Regions from separate parts of the Homo sapiens genome. Here regions 1, 2 and 3 are each linked to region 4. Evidence: fine-mapped expression QTL. A gene starts in region 4. Each other region holds a variant in brackets. All regions are shown on one strand. Distances are from middle to middle. Region 1 has its middle 37 kb from the start of TRIB2. Region 2 has its middle 110 kb from the start of TRIB2. Region 3 holds the start of MIR3681HG (MIR3681 host gene). Region 4 holds the start of TRIB2 (tribbles pseudokinase 2).

Region 1 (5,152 bases), 37 kb before region 4:
TGTGAGTTAATATTACTCAGTGGATTTTTCTCATTATTGCTTCCCTTCCATTCCAAGAAATAGACACTACTGTCATTTGCCATTAATTAAGGAGGCCCTGGGTGTGTTTTCCAAGAATTGTTATGAGTTGTCTGTCATGCTCCAAAGTAGTCTGTGGCTCAAGAGTGAAAAAACCTTTTTTTCTGAAAGGTAGAGGTCATCTTCTCAGGCCACAACCAGGGCAAATGCTCCCAGATCCCTTCATTATAACAGGGAAAGAGTATGACAGTTGACATCAAAAGGCATGGATTTGTAGAACACCTCTGCCACTTAATGCAGATCTTCTTTCAGTGCTCAAGCGGGTCCTGCTGCAGGGCCTTTGCACTTGCTAGTCCCTTTACTCAAAATGGACTAAATTAACTCCAACTTTGCATGCCACTTCCCCAGAGAGGCTTTCCCTGGCCTCCAGTACTCACCAGGCCACTTGACTCCATGTTTGCAGTTACCTTGTGCACCTCTGCAATCCCAGCGACAGCTGTTACAAAATCACTTGCAGCCAATGGCTGTCTTTCCCAGTGCAATGTAAATTTGATGAGGTCAAGGGCAACCTCTGACTTTGCCAGCATCATAACCCAGTGCCCATTGTAACTACAACATCTTGAATGTAACAGGTGCTTATTAAATATTTTGACCGTAAGAGAGCACCAATTAGGTCCCCTTGAGAATGTCTAGAGCCCTCTGAAGCTTGGTTTCCATATATTTACTTCCTATTTGAATTATTATGGTGAGCACGTGGAATCTGCAAGCTCTTTAGTCATATAACGTTAACATCACAGCTAGGGAATAAGATGCCACAGCTTCTATACAAAGCATTTTAGAAGGTGAGACATGCATTCAAAGATACAAACAAATAGGCATGCATATCAAGGGCTGAATTAATTTGGAGTAAAAAAAATAAAGCCAGGAGAAAAAAGAAGACATATGCTAATGTTGAGGGCCCAAGAACTTCCAAGATGTATATAAAAATATCTTTGGAATTGTTGGAGGCCTTTCAGTATGAATCGGGTTACACTGGAGTTATAGTTGGAATTTGCCTATCCACTAAGTGGTGTTTCACATTGACCACGGAGATGAATTCTAGCTTACTGTAAATAGAATGAAGATATCTTTCTTGTTAAATTATTTATTGCACATTACATCTGGCCCCAAGCAATGACATTTTTAGGTTCCACAAAGGTAGCTGTGGATAGTCTATTGTCATTACATAAAGGAAACTCTGAGGGTTTATGTTATAAAATATAAACTATGTGATCATTAATCACCAAATAGCACAGGGGGTTACTCCATTGTGGCAGTGTGGGAGACTAGAAATAGATTGCTGTATCTTCTCTCAAACACCTGCCCAGATTTTTCATAAAGATCCACCAATCAATTTTTTTCAATTCTGTAGAATATGTGAAAAGCAAACTCTCCTCTCCTCTGCTTGTGAATCAGATTTTGCTTCCCAGTGCCTACAGAGAGAGAGACTCAGGCTCTAGAGGATCCCTCTAACTGGAGTGGAAATACAGCCTAGGCCCCTGATAGCTTCAAGTCATAAAAAATAGATTAGGAAAGCCTTTTGCATTGCCTCCCTCTAACCGCAATGGGGTTGGGATTGAGGGAGATACTAAATAGAGACACTCCTCATATACCTCTTTTTGTATAGATATAGATTTGTGATTTTTTTTATTTGAGAAGCCACCCTTTACCCCCAAATTTTTATTCATTTTCTTGCTTCTGTTTCCTTTGATCTTTTTCAATTTTTAGTTAAATGGTACGTTCATTCATGTAGTGATATATTAGGCAAACATTTATTAATCCCTATTATGAGCAAGGCACTGTACTAAATTTCCTGCACACGCAGGTGACCCTATCGGCCTTCCTTCAGTGTCCCCAGTTCCCCCACTCAGCCTGGGCACCGTACACACAGCCCCTGATCCTGAAAGCTTCCCCCCTTCCACTCTCCAGTGCCGTCATCCTTCAGATCTTAGCTCAGATGTTACTTGCTCAGGGAATCCATCTGGAACCTCAGGCTGGCTCCAGTCGCACTGGTACCTCACCTTCGACACCACAGTCTGAGCTCCCATTCTCTCTCTGCATAATTCCTCTTCAGAACCTTGCGGACATCCCACGAGAGCTGAGTCAAATCTGTCTGTCCTGCTAAGCTACGGGCTCCCAGTGGGCAAGTTCTAGGCTTGTCTTATTCATCATTATAAACCCTGTGCTTAGCATGATACCCAGCACGTGTACTTATAGATGAATGTATTTGCAGGATGAATGACCTGTTTACAAATAACCACAAAATTGACAGTGGCTTCTGTGGCCAAAGCTTGTTCCTCACTCACCACACAGGTGTATGACTCCCTTGGGCAGCACTCCACAAAGTAGCTGTCCTCTAGGTGGTTGCCAAGGGACCTCTGCTGTTTCTATTA[T/C]GTGCCTGCACCATTCCCACCATTTTCTGGCAGGAGCTGAGCTACTGTCATCAGCTGGCAGATGGAGAGCAGAGTGTGTTGGGAGGTCACCTCATCTGGAAGGGATGCATGTCATGCCATTCTCATCCAGGGTCCTTAGGCCAGGTTATTCGCACAACTAGCCCAGGGCAAGGACGGCTGGTCAATGGAGGGAGCTCCTTGTTATTAGTGAGCCTGGCTGGGCTCTGCCACAGGCACTGACAAGAGTGGTGAAGACCGTGACAGATAAAAGCATGGAGGTGTGCACAGAAGTTAAGCAAACGGCATAAATGGTGGCTCAGAGAGGGGACAACAAAAATTACATAGCTAAGGGTTTAAGAGGAGTGTATTAGTCCGTTTTCATGCTGCTGATAAAGACATATTTGAGACTGGGAAATTTACAAAAGAAAGAGGTTTAATTGGACTCACAGCTCCATATGGCTGAGGAGGCCTCACAATCATGGCAGAACACAAGGAGAAGCAAGTCACATCTTACATGGATGGCAGCAGGCAAAGAGAGAGCTTGAGCAGGGAAACTCCCCCTTATATTACCATCAGATCTCATGAGACTTATTCACTATCATGAGAACAGCATGAGAAAGACTTGCACCCATGATTCAGTTACCTCCCACTGGGTCCCTCTCACAACATGTGGAAATTCAAGATGAGATTTGGGTGGGGACACAGCAAAACCATATCAAGGAGCCATAAGAAATACCAGGGATACCTTTAAAGACGTTTGGTGTCTAAGGGACTATAATCTGGAGGAAAGAATGAACAAATCATTGAATAGGCAGATGAATGGATGAATGGCTGGGGAGCTTGGACGTTCCTTTAGAGGTTTGCAAGTTTGACTCGCCCTCTGGTCATCTCAGCATCCTGTTCTCCCTCCACACAGTCAATGAAGCAGCCACATTAGGAACCGCAGTGAAGAGAGAGCCCTGGGCACCAGCGGGGAGAGGTCAGCCCACTCCACTGAGCATCCTGTCCCTCTGGAGATGTTCTTTGAGACACTTCCCATGTTGCATTCCTTCACTTGTGGATTTAGACTCTCACCTTCCAGCCTGACAATAGGGACAGATGTGGGAAAAGAAATACATGTTCTCCCCAGTTGTAGAGCAAATGGCTTCTCAAAATGTGTGTATGGGCAGCACAATGGAATTTAAACTCCAAAGGGAAGTTGAAGCTCATAGAGACCAGCCCTTTCACAGGGGTGATGAAGACACAGAAGCCCCAAGAGGGCCCTGCCACCTGCTGGGAAGAGTAGAACCACCACTCGGTCTCTCACCAGCTGAAATGGATTCTAGGGAATCATACCTAGCCCTGTGAGAATGATCTAGGATGTGAGAAGATGCCACATGCTAGGGCAGATAAGGAAGGCTACATTTCACCAATGAAGGAAGCCGGATTAGAGATGCCAGGGTATTGGGCAAGGTGTAGGGGGTTTGCTGAAATTTTCTTTCTTTTTTTTTTTTTCTTTTGAGTCTTGCTCTGTCGCCAGGCTAGACCGCAATGGCGAGAGCTCAGCTCACTGCAACCTCCGCCTCCCGAGTTCAAGCTATTCTCCTGCCTCAGCCTCCCGAGTAGCTGGGACTACAGGCATGCACCACCACGCCCAGCTAATTTTTGTATTTTTAGTAGAGATGGGGTTTCACCATGTTGGCCAGGATGGTCTCAATCTCTTGTCCTCGTGATCCACCCACCTCGGCCTCCCAAAGTGCTGGGATTACAGGTGTGAGCCATCACACCTGGCAGAGCTGCAATTTTAATGGAGGTGTCAGAGGAGGCCTCAGGGCTTGCAGGTCATGAGGGGTTCACCATATGGGCAGTGGGGCAGAGTCTCTAGACAGTAAATGGGAAGGCCCAAAGGCAGGGGTGAGCCACATTGGGGAAGAGTAAACAAGACACAAAGGGAAGAGTCAAAATGGAAAAAACTGGACCACACAGAGCTTTGAAGGCTTCTGGAATGAGTTTAGTGTTCATCCCAGGTGGAACGCGTGCCATGGTGAGGCTGGGAGCAAGATGCGGCATGGAGATCCCAACTTGCGGTGTGAAAAGATCACTCTGGCTGGTATGTTGAGAGACACAGTGGGAGCTGAGAGTCAAAGCAGGGAGGCCCTTAGGAGGCTGCTTCAGTAATCCAGGCAGGAATCATGTATTAAAAAAAAGGAAAAATCAAAACTTACATTGCTCCAGGCACATGCCTCATGGACTGCAATAACAATGGGTTCTTCCCATAAAAACTGTGCAGAGTTGATATTTGAAAACCCCATTCCATTATTCTGATGGGAAAATGGAATTTGGGAATTAAGACCTTCCCCAGTGTCTCATACTGGAGCTCAGCTTCAAATCCTGACTCCGCAGCCTTGAGCACCTGCTGCACGCAGCACCCTGCAAGGCATGGAGGAGACTCCACCCTCCGGAGCTCCAGGCTAGCAGCTGATGAGATGGGGAGGGCCACATATGCAAAAGTCAAAGGACAAGAAGATGGGAGAAGCCAACCCTTCTGTGTCTAATGCATGCTCTGCTCCCTCAGAGCTTTTCCCCAGCCAATATACTTCTCAGGGAGGGACCCATAAGACACGAGGCAGGGCCTGGGAGTAATTTAAGGAAGGCATGGAGGAAAACCGGAAGAGTCAGAAGAAAATAACAACAACAGAAACACATCACACAGACTCCAGACT
Region 2 (5,152 bases), 110 kb before region 4:
CTGAACCGTCTGTGGAAATGAGACTGTTCAATGTTTCTGCAGCAACTGTAGTCAGCTCCTTTTCCTTCCTGTTTGGGGGAGTTTAATTGGATGCAGCTGGAGCATCCCCGCACTCTGAGTCTGAATTTGCTAAAGAAAGAGGGTGGGAAAGGCAGTTCTCACTGCATTCTGTCTGAACCTACAAAGCCACGGGAGACTCCAGAGATAAAATGATTCAAAATCTCACTAAAGTCACTGTGGGTGTTTTCCCAACTGCCAAGACCCAGCTACACAGAACTGAAGTCACTCTTTAAGAATGCATGCAGATTAAGTTTATCTCCATCTTGAAACATTGGGAATAAAAATTAATAATGATAATAGTAATAATTTATAGTATTACTTGCTTCCCTAAATATTTTCACTTATCAGTTGATTGACTAGCATTAATTTGTTCTGAAAATAAAACATTTTTAGAGTAGGGTACAAAAAAAGGATAGGTAGCATGGTGGGAAAAGCGCAATTTAGGTTCAAAATCCACTGCTGAGAGTTACCCATGTATGATCATAGGCAAGTCACTTAAAGCTTATCTGAATTTCTGTTTCGTCTGATTACAAACCAACATATATAAAAAGGCATCATAGACTGAAACAAGGTTGTAAAAGGGGTCATCAGATAGTAACAAAATGAGATAGTTTCATGTCTTTTTTCCTTTCTAAAAAACAGAGCAGGAGGTATATATCCACATGAGTGTGTTTATTTCCAGGATCTTCCTTCAAGAGGGAGGAAAACTTATTCCTATGGTGTAGTAATCCTAGGAACACTTATAGTTTCCAAATCGGGAAATGATATAAGGCTTGCTTATGAATCACTTGAATTTGTGTGACATGATTTTATCGTCACATCCTTTTGTGTTTATTCATTTTTATCCCCATTGATAAGTCACTTCACTTATTTACTTGCTTTTGTTTTGAATGATGTTTGGCTCTTTATAAAATCAAATTCATTCTCAAAGATTTAACATCAGTGAAGAAATTGCAACTCTTTTCCTCCCTACTTTTGATCAGTCTCTTACACATTTGTGAGCAATGACAGTGCAAAGGTTTTACCTTCCACAGGGGGGTGGTCTATAGAAGCGACAACTTGCATTAATTGGATGCCTAATGTTTACCATACTCTATGTTGGGTGTATCTTATACACATCCGATATTATCTTTTTAATAATATTGTGAGATAGACAATGTTATCTCATTTTAAAGATGACAACAATAAAGCTTGGATTTTTTAAACTTGTTTTTCACTTACCTGTTAAATAAGGAACTACAATTAGATCCTAATTCTCTCTGAGCCCAAGATCTGTTTTTTTCCTCCACAGGAGGCTTCTCCTTCACCATTTGCATATGCATACCAAATAACCAGTCTCATCACTTTACGGTCATATGATCTTCACTGATTAGTTCACTCAATATTTGTTGAGCACCTTCTTTGAATGTGGCTCTTCAGCAGGCCTGTGAGAGACTGAGGTCTCTGAGTCATAGTGACTTCCCAGGTTGCGTATCTCCAAAGTGCTGCATTTCCCCAGTGACTCAGGGTACCACAAAAGTGTCACCTATTTAATGATTGTTAGAACTTAATTTAATACAAAATTAATTCTTACATGCCACAGATCAATAATGCTTTGTCCTCAGAACAATCGTAATGGAATTTTAGCTGGACCCAGATAAAATCAAAAAGGAAAACCGAACTAGACCTCCCTGGTAATTATCATCCCAAATGCACCCATATGTATGTAATTCTGAAGAGTTGCATGAAAAACAAATATATATTGAATTATATTTGATTTTTGGCTTTTATTATAATATTGGAGATATAATTGTGTGGATCAAAAGTAATACAATTTATCTTTCACATGTTGACAAGATGGAAAAACAATACTGGGTTTACAATGCTACCTGAAAATAAAAAATTAAATGAACAAAAAATGTGAAAGAAAATGTGAAAGAAAGGATTTTCAAGACCCTAAACATTGGGCAATGAAAGACAGTGATCAATGCAAAACAGAAAACAAATGAAATAAATCCTGCGATTCTCTTACTACCTTGAGAGAGTCTGCAGACCATGATGCAGAGGGAGAACACCAAGGAAGAACCGGGTGGACTCCATGGATGAAGAAACAAAGCTGAGATTTCAGGGATACCAAGGAA[C/G]CTAGAGTTTGTGGAACAAAGTACTGAAGAGAAGAAAATCATATATAGAAAGAATCCTGGAGAAATGCAAGGGACCCTCTTACATTTTCAGCAGAATACTGACCAAGCCATGCACCAAGGCTGGGACCCTCTTACATTTTCAGCAGAATACTGACCAAGCCATGCACCAAGGCTGGAGCAAGAACCATCCAAAAGATGAAAAGAAAGAGTACTCAGCACTCATACAGGTCTGGAAATACTGCCTGTTTCCACCAACCAGATTGAAGAATCTCATTATTCCCTGGACATTGCGTAGAATACTCAGGAAAATCTTGCTTCAATAATGGAAAGTAATTAGCTCTAAAATGCTCTGGGTCTTCCTAACAAATGATAAAAGCAAGACTCTAAAGGGGCAAACTTTTCCCAAGTAAAAATGGCATCCTAGCATAAATCTCAAGAATATTATGATTTTTTAAAAAACCCAGCATTCAACAAGGTAAAATTTATAATATTGGGTATCAAATCAAAGATTCTGATCCAGAACTGACACATATGTTAGAATTAGCAAACAATGACATTCAAGCAGTCATTATACATGCAGTCCATATATTCATAGGCTTAAGTAAAGACATAGAAGATTATTTTTAAAAAAAGGCAAGTTGGCCAGGCGCAGTGGCTCACGCCTGTAATCCCAGCACTTTGGTCGGCCGAGGTGGGTGGATCACAAGGTCAGGAGATCGAGACCATCCTGGCCAACATCGTGAAACCCCGTCTCTACTAAAATACAAAAAAGTTAGCCGGGCCTGGTGGCGCGCACCTGTAGTCCCAGCTACTCGAGAGGCTGAGGCAGGAGAATGGCATGAACCCGGGAGGCGGAGCTTGCGGCGAGCCGAGATCGCGCCACTGCACTCCAGCCTGGGCAACAGAGCGAGACTCCGTCCCCCGCCCCCCACCCCCCCAAAAAAGAACACAGTTATTACGAGACAGAAACTTCAACAAGGGGGGCGGAGGTTGCAGTGAGCCCAGATCGCACCACTGCACTCCAGCCTGAGGACAGAGCAAGATCTCCGTCTCAAAAAAAAAAAAAAAAAGCAAATCGAACTTGTAGAAGGAACATGATAATGTGTGATATGAAAGTACTTTGGATAAGATTAATGTCAGACTAAAAAATTTGGAAGAAAGGATTAGTAAATTTAAAGAAATAGCAATATAAAAAATAAAATGAACCACTGAAAGAAGTCTAATTTAAAAAATTAAAATAAAAAAAGAATGTTAGTGACGTATAGGACTACTTTAAGCAGCTCAATATATAGTTTGAAGTCCCTTGAGTAGAAGGGGGAAAAAAAAGCAGAGGGAACAGAAAAGATATACAAAGACAAATTTGCCAAAACATTTTCAAAATTGATGAAATTACAAACCTATAAATCTAGGAAATGTGAAGAAAACTACACTGATGCATATTGTCACCAAATTGTGCAAAACCATCCATTAAGAGAAAAACCTTAAAACAGCCAGAAAAAAATAAGTTGCATTTTATACACAGGAACAAAGAAAAAAATGAAAGCATATTTCTTATCAGAAATAATACAAGCAAGAAGACAATGGAGCCAACAACATCTTTAAATTACTGATAGGAAAAATATTTTCCACCATAAATTCTATACTCAGCAAAAATATCTTTCAAAAGACAAAAAGGAAACAAAATGCTTTCAGAAATAAATGAGTAGAAAGCCTCATCACCAGCAGACACATACACTAAAAATGTTAAAAGGAGTCTTTTGGACAGAAGGAAAATAATGTCACATGCAAATATAAGTCTAGACAGAGGAATCAGTGGCCTAAAAATGACTACTACATGGGGAAGTATAAACTTTTTAGCATTTAAATCTCTTTACAAGATAATTGATTGTTAATAAAAATAATAGTATACATAATAACATGCGTAAGTAAAATATATAAAGTCTCAGACAGGAGAAATGAAAACATTTTGTTAAGGTTCTTATACCACATGTGAAGTAGTAAATATTATCTTTAGGTCAAATGTGATAAGTTAAATCTTAAAGCAGCCACTAAAATAACAAAACAATGAGTTATAGCTAAGCAGGCAGAAGAGATAAAATTGAATCCCCAAAAATGCACAATTAATCCAAACTAAAAGCAGAGAAAGAAGAAAATGGGAACAAAAAAACAGAATTTTTTTTAAATAGCAAGATGCTAGACTTGAACCTAACTATAGAAATAAGTGCCTTAAATTTAAATAGTTTAGAAAACTGCACTGAAAGACAGAAATTGTCATATTTTATGAAAAAAACATAGTAAGATATATGCTGCCTTTAAGAAAATACAGTTTAAATGTAAAAACATAAATAAGTTAAATGTGAAAGGATAGAAGAAGATATATCATGTTAACACTCCTCAAAATAAAGCTGTTTTGGCTATGTTAATACCAAAGTAGATTTTAGAGAAAATGATATTGCTAGAAATGACAAAAATAGTTTCATAATGATAATTATAAAATATATGAAAGTCCTCTATACTGAAAATTAAAACATTGCACAGATAAAGAGGATCTAAATAAGTAGAGAGATACACCTTGTTCATAGGTCAGAAGACTCAATATTATTAAAACATAAATTTGTTCCCAAATTACCCTGTAGATTCAAAGCAATCCAATCAAAACCCCCAAAAATATTTTAGTAGTAATCAACATATTGATTTCAAAATTCATATAAAACTGCAAAGGACCAATAATTGCCAAAACAAATTTTAAAAGCAGAATAAATTTGAAAGACTACCACTCCCTGAATTTAATACTTATTATAAAAATGCAGTTATCCAGACAGTGTGGTATTAGTGCAAATATACAGAAAGACAGATCAATAGAACAGAATAGGGACTTCAGAAATTGACCCCTATATATTTGGATAATGGATTTTCAGCATGCAAGAGCAGTTCAGTAGAGAAAGAATAGTCTTTTTAAGAAATGACACTGT
Region 3 (5,152 bases), 710 kb before region 4:
GATAGGCCCAGAAAAGATGGAATTGATAAAAATAGCAAATTGCTGTTTTTATATTTCAGAAGAAACAAACAGATTTTTGATAACTGTTTCTTAGAAAGAGTTGGAATGGGCTGGGCACAGTGGCTCACACTTGTAATCCCAGCACTTTGGGAGGCCGAGGCAGGCGGATCATTTGAGGTCAGGAGTTTGAGACCAGCTTGGCCAATGTGGTGAATCCTCAACTCTACTAAAAATACAAAAAAATTAGCCGGGCATGGTAGCACATGCCTGTAATCTCAGCTACTTGGGAGGCCGAGGCAGGAGAATCACTTGAACCTGGAAAGCGGAGGTTGCAGTGAGCCAAGATCGGGCCACTGCACTCCAGCCTGGGTGACAGAGTGAGACTCTGTCTCAAAAAAAAAAAAAAAAAAAAAAAAAGAGTTGGAACATCCCACTGCATGCAGCCTTGCGCATAGTTACAAAAACACCGCCAGAGTTATAATTTCTGGATGACAAGTCTATTTGGTTTCTGTGGTAAATTTAAGATTCCTGCAGAATCTTAAATGCAATATTAACAAAACTCATAACCACTGTCGACTTCTCATTATTAAAGTGTTATCTTTTAATTGTATAAAACTTGGAAACTGTATTTAATGTGGTGTCCATGATAGGACTGAATAGCAGAGACTTTGAGAAAAACATCCAGGTCAGACTGCTTTGGGATTATACTTTGGGGAATTTGGGATGAGACCGTAGGCTGGTGGATAGGGAAGGGGTTTGTCACTGAGCGAATGTTTCAGTCCTTGATGTAAACCTTAGAGAAGGAAATGAGGGCTCATGAGATGGACCTTACTCATGTTTTATAGGTAAATTCTTCTAGAACAAACTCCCTGGGGTTGGCAGTCAGCCTGGCCCTCATTGAGGCCTGGTGAAGCCTGATGTGGATTCGTAGTGAGTAACTTGCCACTGTCCCGTAGGGTCAGGATGGAAGCCAGGCACCTGGGACCTGGGCTGGGAAGGGATGCCCAGGTGAGTCTGGACCTGGGGAGCAATAATTGCAAATGATTCTGTCCACGTAATTTTCCGTCCATTGTCCCAGAATGCTCCATGTCTTTTGTATGTTACAATCTAGGTTTCTCGGTGGTGGTAGACGTGATGGTAGTGCTATTAGTGGTAACGATATTGACAATAATAAAACACTTTTAAAGTGCTTATGAATATTTCTGGTACTATTCTGAATACTAAATGATAATGTATTTTGTCCTCACAATGCCCTTGTGAATGAGGAACTAATATTTTCCTGATTTTACAGGTTAGAAAATGAAGGGACAGAGAGGTTTCCTTTTTTTTTGACTAATTTCCTTAGAAAGGAAGTATATTACTTTGCTAGGGCTGCCATAACAAAATACCACTGACTGGGCGGCTGCAACAACAGAAATTTATTTTCTTGCAGAAAGGCGGCTGACAGTCCAAGATCAAGGTGCCAGCAGGGCTGGTTTTTCCTGAGACCTACTTCCTTGGTTTGTAGATGGCCATCTTATTGCTGTGTCTTCACATGGTCTTGTCTCAGAGGCATGCATGTCTCCAGCCAAATGTCCTCTTCTTGTAAGGACACCAGCCCTATTGGACTAGGACCCCACACTTATAACCTTAACTAAGCCTGTAAAGGCTCTGTCTTCAAATACAGTCACATTAGGGGCTAGAACTTTGACATGTGAATTTCATATCATAAATACAGAGAAGTGCAATTTGGTGGTAATAGCTAAGATGAATAGGAATTCTGATATGATTTTGAGACACATTCTCACTTAAAGTCTCAGCATATAAATAAAGTTTAATCACCTTGAAGATCAGACAGCTTCTTAAATATAATGATCCATTCTCAATTACCTATTAGTGGGAGGCCACGATAATAGAGAACTGAATTCCAAATATAATTAAAAATATTCGTGTCACTGCTTAGATGCCATCTCTTTCTTTACCAAACTTAAAAAAAGAAAAGTCTCTCCCCTAGAGCTCTTAAACCACATGATTCAGCTACTAACCGAAGCTCACCCTTTTGGATTTCCCCTGCTGTACTGT[G/C]GTCGAGGTGCTAATTAGCAGGGAAAGTGCCAAATGGCAGGCAGCCAGAGGAAAAGCAGAGAAGCTGAAAGACCTGCACAAACTGCAGGTTTGTGAGTTGCAAAATTGAGATATGCCTCTAATGAGTTATGTATTAAAGCCCCTCTGCCCCATGACAGCAACGTCACCCTGGCAGAGACCTCCAGTTTCCTTACCTGGTAAACGGGGATTATAATAATACCACATTCCCAGGCTTGCAGGGTATTAGACCAAATCAGCTAAGAGCAGCAGACTAAGAAACTGGTCTTTATTGAGCATATATTTTATGTCAGACACTTGGCAACATGATTCATTTAATTCTCACATTGATTCTATAAGGTAGGCATGGCTAGCTCCATTTTGTGGATGGGTAAACTGAGGCTGGAGAAACTTGCCAAGTGTCACATACCAATTACACTTGAACCTCACTCCAAAGGCTTTGCTCCTTCTACTGACCCGTGTTGCAGAAATGCCTGGCCTTTTGTGAGCACTCGGTAAATGTCTGTCATTGTTGGAGAGAAAAGGAAAAAAATTATCTCCTTGCTATGAATTTAAACAATATATTTTAAAGCTGCTGGGAGCCTTTTTGTCCTGGTTTTCTGCATCTGATTTACCTGTCCCATTTTAACCATTCATGTGAACATTGTTATGTAACTAGCACATGCTTTTACTGTGTATAACTTAGTGTTACATAAATCTAAAGGCTGCTGACTGCTAGCAATCTTTTAAATGTAATGAGCTGAAAGATTTGCTTTGAGCCTTGGGGCAGGATAGCTTTGGCTTAACCATTTGCTGAGTTCAGCTTTTAGGAGGATAAGTTTACTGCATCCCTTCAATAATCCAACTGAAGCCTGGATTCCAAGCAACTGTAGATGAGATTTAAGTCTCCAAGAATGTTAGAAACTTAAATAAAACAAGGCTTAAGCAGAAAGTCCTCACAATGGTGTCCACATTCCATCAGGATGACGTAATCGAAGGTTGGAACCAGGCGGCCTCTGCCTTTGTGTTCCGGGACCCCTCACTCAGTGCAGAGGGAAATTGACACAGCCATGATGAGGCCTGGCTCACAAGAGCCATAGTTACTGTAGGAGTTTCTGTGGCTAAATATGCTTAGCTATTGGTGGGTTTCTCAGCTATGACAATGGTCTCCGTAAAAACACAGAACAAAAATTTTTGGTTAATTGAGGTCAAATTTTGTGTTAAAGGAGGGTTAATTTCCCTCCCCTCTAAGAGAAGAGTCTCTATGTGTTTAAAAACATGTTAACATTTAGTCTTGTCTGTTTTGTTGATCAGTTGAAGTCAGAGCAATAAAATCCCAGGGGTGGAAAGGGTGCAAAGGGCCATTGGGTTCATTTCCCTCATTTGGAAGCCAAACACATGCAGGTGATGATCACACTGTCCTTGAGCTGGGTGCAGAGATCAGCTCTGCCACATGCTGTTTGTTAATTTAATAAGATGAAGTGTGGGACCCAGGCTGAGTTCCTCAACACATTTTTTCATCTGTAAAATGGGGATTATAAAAAATAATAGTACCTACCTTAAAGGGCTAGGCACAGAGCCGTAGATGAGTTAACATGTGTTTTGAACAGATCTGGGTATACTGTGGTGTGAAACATTTGCAATTCTTCTTATATTACAGAGGCAAGGACATGTGCTGGATGTGTATGCAGTCTTTGAAGCTGGAGAGGCCTGTGTTGGAAACTGTGCTCTGTCCCATGCCAGTTCCCTGACCTTGGGTAAGTCACATAAAGTGTGAGTCTTTTATTTTTTTCTAGAGTGGAAATGGGGCTATGAATTCCTAACACTGGTAGGATTATAAGGAAAAGGACAAGATTAAAGTAAACAATACATTATAAGCATGGTGGCTAGCACATGGCTAGTCTTCTCAATGAATATTTTTTAGAAAATATAAAAAGGATGAATATCGGATATCTTAGTAACTCCTTTAGCTTTAAGCACACATCTCTACACACAGCCACATACAAACGTATTGGCTACACATTGGACTCCTTTTTTTTTTTTTTTTTTGAGACAGGGTCTTGCTCTGTTGCTGAGGCTGGAATGCAATGGCACAAACATGGCTCGCTGCAGCCATGACCTCCCGGGCTCCTGATTCTCCCACTTCAGTCTCCTGAGTAGCTGTGATGACAGGTGCATGCCACCACACCTGGCTAGTTTTTTAATTTTTTGTAGAGATAGGGTCTTGCCATGTTGCCCAGGCTGCACATTTAACTACTTTTACTTTTTCCTTCTTAACTTCTTGACATATGGTAGAGAACACAACCTAAAGTCACCAAATAGGTGAAAAATCTAGATTTCCTTTTTTTTTTTTAAATTTTGTTTTTGACCCATTTCCTTAGAAAGGAAGTATATTCGTTTGTTAGGGTGGCCATAACAAAATACTATAGACGGGGTGGATTCAACAACAGAAATTTATTTTTGGCTAAAAATCCAAGATCGAGGATTGCATCTTTCCAATTTCTGGCAGGGCTGGTTCCTGCTTGGTTTGTAGACAGCCATCTTATTGCTGTGTCTTCCCATGGTCTTGTCTTTGTGGGCATGCATGTCTGTACCCAAATCTCTTCTTATAAGGACATCAGTCCTAGCAGACTAGGACCCCACACTAATAACCTTCATTAACTCTGTGAAGGCCCTGTCTCCAAACACAGTCACATTGGGGGTTAAGGCTTTGACATATGAATTTTGGGGACATAATTCATTTCATAAAAGAAAGATATCACTTTCTGCTTCCTCATTCATGTTGACTCATTCAGAGAAAATTTGTGGTATATTTACCATCTGCAAGCCACAGAAAGGCCTCAGAAGAAACCGGCCGTGCTGACACTTTGATGGTGGACTTGTAGCCTCCAGAATTGTAAGAAAATACATTTTCTTTTGGTTTAATCCAACCAGTCTATGGTGCTTGTGGCAACACTAGAAAACGAATATACTCCTCTATCTGGATAATAAACACTATACTTAAAACATTTGAATATCTGCTGTGTTCCAAGCGGTTGATATTTTGAATATTTTTATAATATTTCTGAATCTGTTGATCCTATTATCTGCATTT
Region 4 (5,152 bases):
TGTTGGCCAGGATGGTCTCGATCTCTTGACCTCGTGATCGGCTCGCTTTGGCCTCCCAAAGTGCTGGGATTACAGGTGTGAGCCACCACACCCGGCCTTGAGTTTTTATTATAGGCAAGACATTGTGCCAGATGCTTTATACACATCTTCCATAATTGCTATACATTAAGACAAAATTTCTATTGTAATTTCACTTTATAGATTAAAATATTCCAAACTTGACCAAAGTCATATGGCTAAAAAGTGAATGAATAAAGATCCCCACCCAGATCTTCCTACTACATGCTTTTTTCTTTTCCAATTTGCTAAGAATTACCGAGTTAACAGACATAACAAATATTTAAGGCACTTGATACAAATTATCTAATTTATCCTGCACTGCAATAGCTCCGTGAATTTAATCAACAAACATAGCACTAAGCCATGAATTTGGCCTTCAAGGACAGGCAGGAGAATGGCCACTGTGTAATTTCATCACAAGTCATAAATTCACTATTAATCCTGTACAGCATCACTAGAGGTTTATACTATTTCTGCTCTCTCTTTCCTTGGAAGCCCAGTAGTATCTACTCCCTGTGATCTGCAGCAGGATCTAAATCCCACAAACGACCGTGTCACTTCCCAATGTCAGCCGTGCTTCGCCATCTCCTCTACTAGGAAGACCACTGTTGCTAGTTGTGTCTATCAACCCCTTCCCGATCTAATCCCAATCAGTCCACTTTGCCAGCCACATGCCTGGCCACTGCTCCCAGCTGCCACTGCTGGAACATGGTGCATTACTAGAAATTTCAGAACATCCCACTCCCTTGCTTTTCCACATTCCTTCCCTCTGCCTGAAATGCCAACAACAATCTCTTATTCATTTTATTTTATGACTCATAGGGCTATTTCAAGGTCCATGAAGACAGGAAATATATTTTTCAAATCATTGTATCTTCATATCCAGTGTCTGGCACATAGTAGGTTTCAATAAATATTTGCTCTGGATTAGTTCAAGGTAATAAAAATCACATTTTCTGGGAAAACTCCCTGACGTTCAGGAAAAGTCATTCCCTCCTCCATGCTCCCTTGAGGCCTTGATATTCTAATTGCCACATTGTTACACAATGACATTATTTGTTTCCCAGTCTTTCTGCCGGGCTAGACCCTGCGCTCTTGGGTGGCAGAGACCAGATCTTACTCATATTGGATCCCTAACACTCAGCACAGAGCCCGGCTTATAGTAAGCCTTCATAGATTTCCTGGAATTGAAAATATAATTCTAAAGCAACCACATGAGGTGAGCAGGGCGGGTATTATGCTTCTCATCTTACAGATGAAGAAACAGGGATCTAGGGAGAAAAAACAAGGTCTTCACCCAATTTCCATTTGAAATCAGAGACCCAGCCAGGGCTAGCACACAGGTGTCCCAACCCCTAATTATTACAAAGCTCTCTTGGCCACTGCATAGAGGAGGCTAGGCACCTCTCTTTCTGACTCAACAGCAGGGGTTGCTTCGAGACTGTTCCTAACACAGGCCAAGTGTCTTCCTGGGGTAAGACTGGATTAGGGGACCCTGCTCGGTCAGTGGTCCTGGTGATCGCCTAGGGAAATAGATCTATTCTGCTGGGATCTGGGACTGAATCCTAGGCAGGTTTGTGGGGAGTAGGATGGTGAGAGGTGCTGGAAGGCACGGGTCCACTTCTTAACCTTCCTTTTAACTCTGTGCTGCTGGGTGGAAGCTTTATAGTCAATGTCCTCTCCATCTCTGGCCACATTCCCAGGACTCCTGATCATTAGAGTGACTGTTGTCCCAAGTGGACATAATTATAAATAGCTCCCTTCTTTTACTGAAAGTGTCCTACAGTGGACAATAATTTAGTCCCCTCCTCCAGTGGAAAATATACTACACGCATGCAAAAGCTCAGAGGGCTCCAGGAGTCGTCCCAACTCCCCTTTCTCAGTTCCTTGGGATTTTTTTTTTTAAGTTTGTCCTCTACTAGATCGCTTCTCATTCACCAGGATATCTTAGATCAAGGCTGGCGTTTGAAGCCTCTGCCTGAGTTCAAGCCCCTTGCTTCCGGTGTTCCTGTCCAAGCCCGCGGACTGGAATCTCCCAAGGAAGTTACGAATAATTCGGGGGGGGTGGCGAAATGGGGGGTGGAGTGGGGCGTGAAACTGCAGCCTTCACCTGGCTAACAGAAGAGGACTCAGGACGCCCAGCACCCTGGATAGGACCCAACAGCGCTCCCTGGAGGTGTGGGTGCAAAGTTTTGTCTAGCTTGGCCTCCAAGGCCCTCCAGGCAATGCACTGGGAAGGGAAGAATTAGTGATTAAATTTGACCTGAATCAAAAGATGCCTTCAGTTCCTCTTCTGCTGAAAACACTAGAAATACAAGCCCAGGATGTGGGGATCGGGGGCAAGCGGTGACACCAACTAAAAGGAAGCAATGGATTTCCTTTTAAATGGAGAGGAGGATGTCGGAGAGATACCATGAAACGAATTCTCGAAACTCCAGGCAGCAATACCGATGAAAGCGCATTCTTCCAAAACAGAGCTCCTCATTCAGGGCCACATCTGAGCCTGGGGGCCCAATGCTCAGAGCGTGCCTGGCTTTCTGGGGAAAAGCGCCAGGAACATGAACGAGCTACGAAGAGCTGGAGCGGGCGCTGCGGGAGCAGCGTGTGGGGAACGGCTCGGGAGTCGCTGCTGGTAACCCCGGCCCAGCCGCCCGCAGCTGGGCTCGCAGCCGGCTCGCAGCCGACACCCAGGGTGCTGCGCCCGGGGCCCCGGGCCGCGGAAGGATATTTCACTTTGTTTACCTCCCCGGCCGGGCGAGGGAGCTGCGAGGCCGGTGCTGGCGCCCCCGGCACGGAGCTGCAATGGCAGCGGCGCGGGGAGCCGCCCGAGGACTGGCAGCGGCGGGGCTGATTGATGGGCGCCCGGCGCAATGAGGGGGGCCCGGGCGGGGGCGGGGCGGGGCCGGCTCTGGGCTGAGCCAGTCGCGGGGGCGGCGGGGGGGGGGCGGAGGCTCCGTGGAAATGTGTCGGTGACATTGAATGGGGAGACCGAGCGCGAGCGAGGCGCGCGCGCGCACACGCGCACTCACGGCCCCGCTCGCTCCGAGATCCCCGGCCACGTAAGTAACTATTAATACCGCCTCGCCGGGGGATGCGGGCGTGCTGAGCGCGGGGATTGGCCTCGGGCACCGTCGGCCGTCCCCTTTAATTTTTAAATACACGGTCCCCTCTTTTCTCTGGGGGGGGCAAGCAAGAAATCAAAGAAGGAGGAGACAAGCCGTCAATTTTCTCCAAAACAAACCCCACCGGGCAATTTGGTCTCGGGGTAGGGGGAGACGGGGTGATTGCAAATTATTCCAGGACGAGATCCAGTTCTCCAGCGGGAAAGGGGCAAAGGAACGCCGCGCGTTGGAAGGGCCAGGGACGCAGCTCCCCTTGCAGCGCCCGCAGGACCCCCGCAAGCTCGTGCCGGCGAAATCGGAGACCGCCGATCTGTCCTCGTTCTCTCCTGCACGTCTGGCTGCATTCGGAGGAAGACCTGGGGCGCGAGCGAGCGGCGACAGCATGAGCCTGTGCTGACCTCCGCGCGGCGGGCCGAGCCCAGGGCTTTGTCGCGGTACCTGCGCCCAGCCCGCGCCGCAACTCTGTGCCCAGCTTTTGCAATCTTTTGTTGGCAGCGCTGACCGCACCAAGTTAAATGCTCCCTTGCAATTTTTCTTTTTTTTGTTTGTTTGTTTAATTTTTGGAGAGCTCGCGATCTTGGAAAAGCCTCAGACGCCATCTACAGTTAAAACGTAGGTAACTGCCCTCTCCCGCACCCCCCCCTTACACGCCCCCCACCCTTTCCACCAAAAAAAGGGGGTGCAGCGCGGATTCTGGCTGCCGTGCGTCGCCAGCCGGTAGACCCGTGCTTGTTTCCTTTCTCTTTTTGTTTGGCTTCTAACGCGTTGGGACTGAGTCGCCGCCGTGAGCTCCCCGAAGACTGCACAAACTACCGCGGGCTCCTCCGCCCCGTCTGCGATTCGGAAGCCGGCCTGGGGGTCGCGTCGGGAGCCCTGGCGCTGCAGCTCCGCACCTTAGCAGCCCGGGTACTCATCCAGATCCACGCCGGGGACACACACACAGAGTAACTAAAAGTGCGGCGATTCTGCACATCGCCGACTGCTTTGGGGTAACAAAAAGACCCGAGTTGCCTGCCGACCGAGGACCCCCGGGAGCCGGGCTCGGAGCAGACGAGGTATCCGGCGGCGCCCATTTGGGGGCTTCTAACTCTTTCTCCACGCAGCCCCTCTTCTGTCCCCTCCCCTCTCGCTCCCTTTTAAAATCAGTGGCACCGAGGCGCCTGCAGCCGCACTCGCCAGCGACTCATCTCTCCAGCGGGTTTTTTTTTGTTTGTCGTGTGCGATCCTCACACTCATGAACATACACAGGTCTACCCCCATCACAATAGCGAGATATGGGAGATCGCGGAACAAAACCCAGGATTTCGAAGAGTTGTCGTCTATAAGGTCCGCGGAGCCCAGCCAGAGTTTCAGCCCGAACCTCGGCTCCCCGAGCCCGCCCGAGACTCCGAACTTGTCGCATTGCGTTTCTTGTATCGGGAAATACTTATTGTTGGAACCTCTGGAGGGAGACCACGTTTTTCGTGCCGTGCATCTGCACAGCGGAGAGGAGCTGGTGTGCAAGGTAAAGGGCCAGTGGGTTGCTTTTTGTCTTTGGAAGGGGCCCGAGGGAGCGGGAGGGCGCCAGGCCCTCGAGTCTGGGAGAGGGAGATTCGCGGGATAATTACCGTGGCCTTATTAAATGGGTTTATTTATTTATTTGCTCAGGTTCGGTAAGTTGCGAAGTTTTTAGACCGTTTCAGACAATGGGGCGGGCGGCAGTGGGGGCGTTTCGGGGAGAGCCCGGGGAGGAGAGGGCGGCGGGACTGCGCGGGGGCCACGGACACGCGTGCACCGAAGGCTCCAGGAGCTCTCTGCGCGAGGCCGGGTCCCGCTGCCCGGGGGGGATTTCTTCCTGTGTCTAGCCCCCTCCCCTTCCAACAAGGATTAGGGAATCCCCCGGTAATTTTAAGACTGATGACTTCGTTCTTTTCGCAGCCATTGTTCTTAGCAGCGGGCAGGTGTTAAACCTTTGTTCCGAAGGTGCCCTT

Evidence for each region. PIP is the estimated chance that this variant, and not a neighbour inherited with it, causes the effect.
Region 1: its variant is fine-mapped to the expression of TRIB2 in whole blood (TOPMed, PIP 0.95).
Region 2: its variant is fine-mapped to the expression of TRIB2 in whole blood (TOPMed, PIP 0.94).
Region 3: its variant is fine-mapped to the expression of TRIB2 in whole blood (TOPMed, PIP above 0.99).

What each region holds. Positions count from the first base shown.
Region 1 is chr2:12,677,310-12,682,461 of GRCh38, forward strand. No RefSeq gene overlaps it. Among named protein-coding and RNA genes, the nearest start is that of TRIB2, 37 kb to the right of the region's middle. The variant T/C (reference allele first, on the strand shown) is at 2,451.
Region 2 is chr2:12,606,697-12,611,848 of GRCh38, forward strand. No RefSeq gene overlaps it. Among named protein-coding and RNA genes, the nearest start is that of TRIB2, 110 kb to the right of the region's middle. RefSeq lists a silencer at 513-713. The variant C/G (reference allele first, on the strand shown) is at 2,181.
Region 3 is chr2:12,004,029-12,009,180 of GRCh38, forward strand. MIR3681HG (MIR3681 host gene) reads left to right here and starts at 3,088. Exons shown (of 6, transcript NR_110196.1): 1 at 3,088-3,199; 2 at 3,719-3,815. RefSeq lists enhancers at 2,317-2,366, 2,875-3,169, 4,601-4,650. The variant G/C (reference allele first, on the strand shown) is at 2,062.
Region 4 is chr2:12,713,892-12,719,043 of GRCh38, forward strand. It overlaps TRIB2 (tribbles pseudokinase 2), which reads left to right and starts at 3,045. Exons shown (of 3, transcript NM_021643.4): 1 at 3,045-4,686. The coding sequence starts at 4,417. LOC124905974 (a long non-coding RNA gene) reads right to left here and starts at 2,867. Exons shown (of 2, transcript XR_007086222.1): 1 at 1-2,867. RefSeq lists silencers at 2,633-2,852, 2,943-3,002 and enhancers at 2,955-3,594, 3,443-3,512, 4,874-5,152.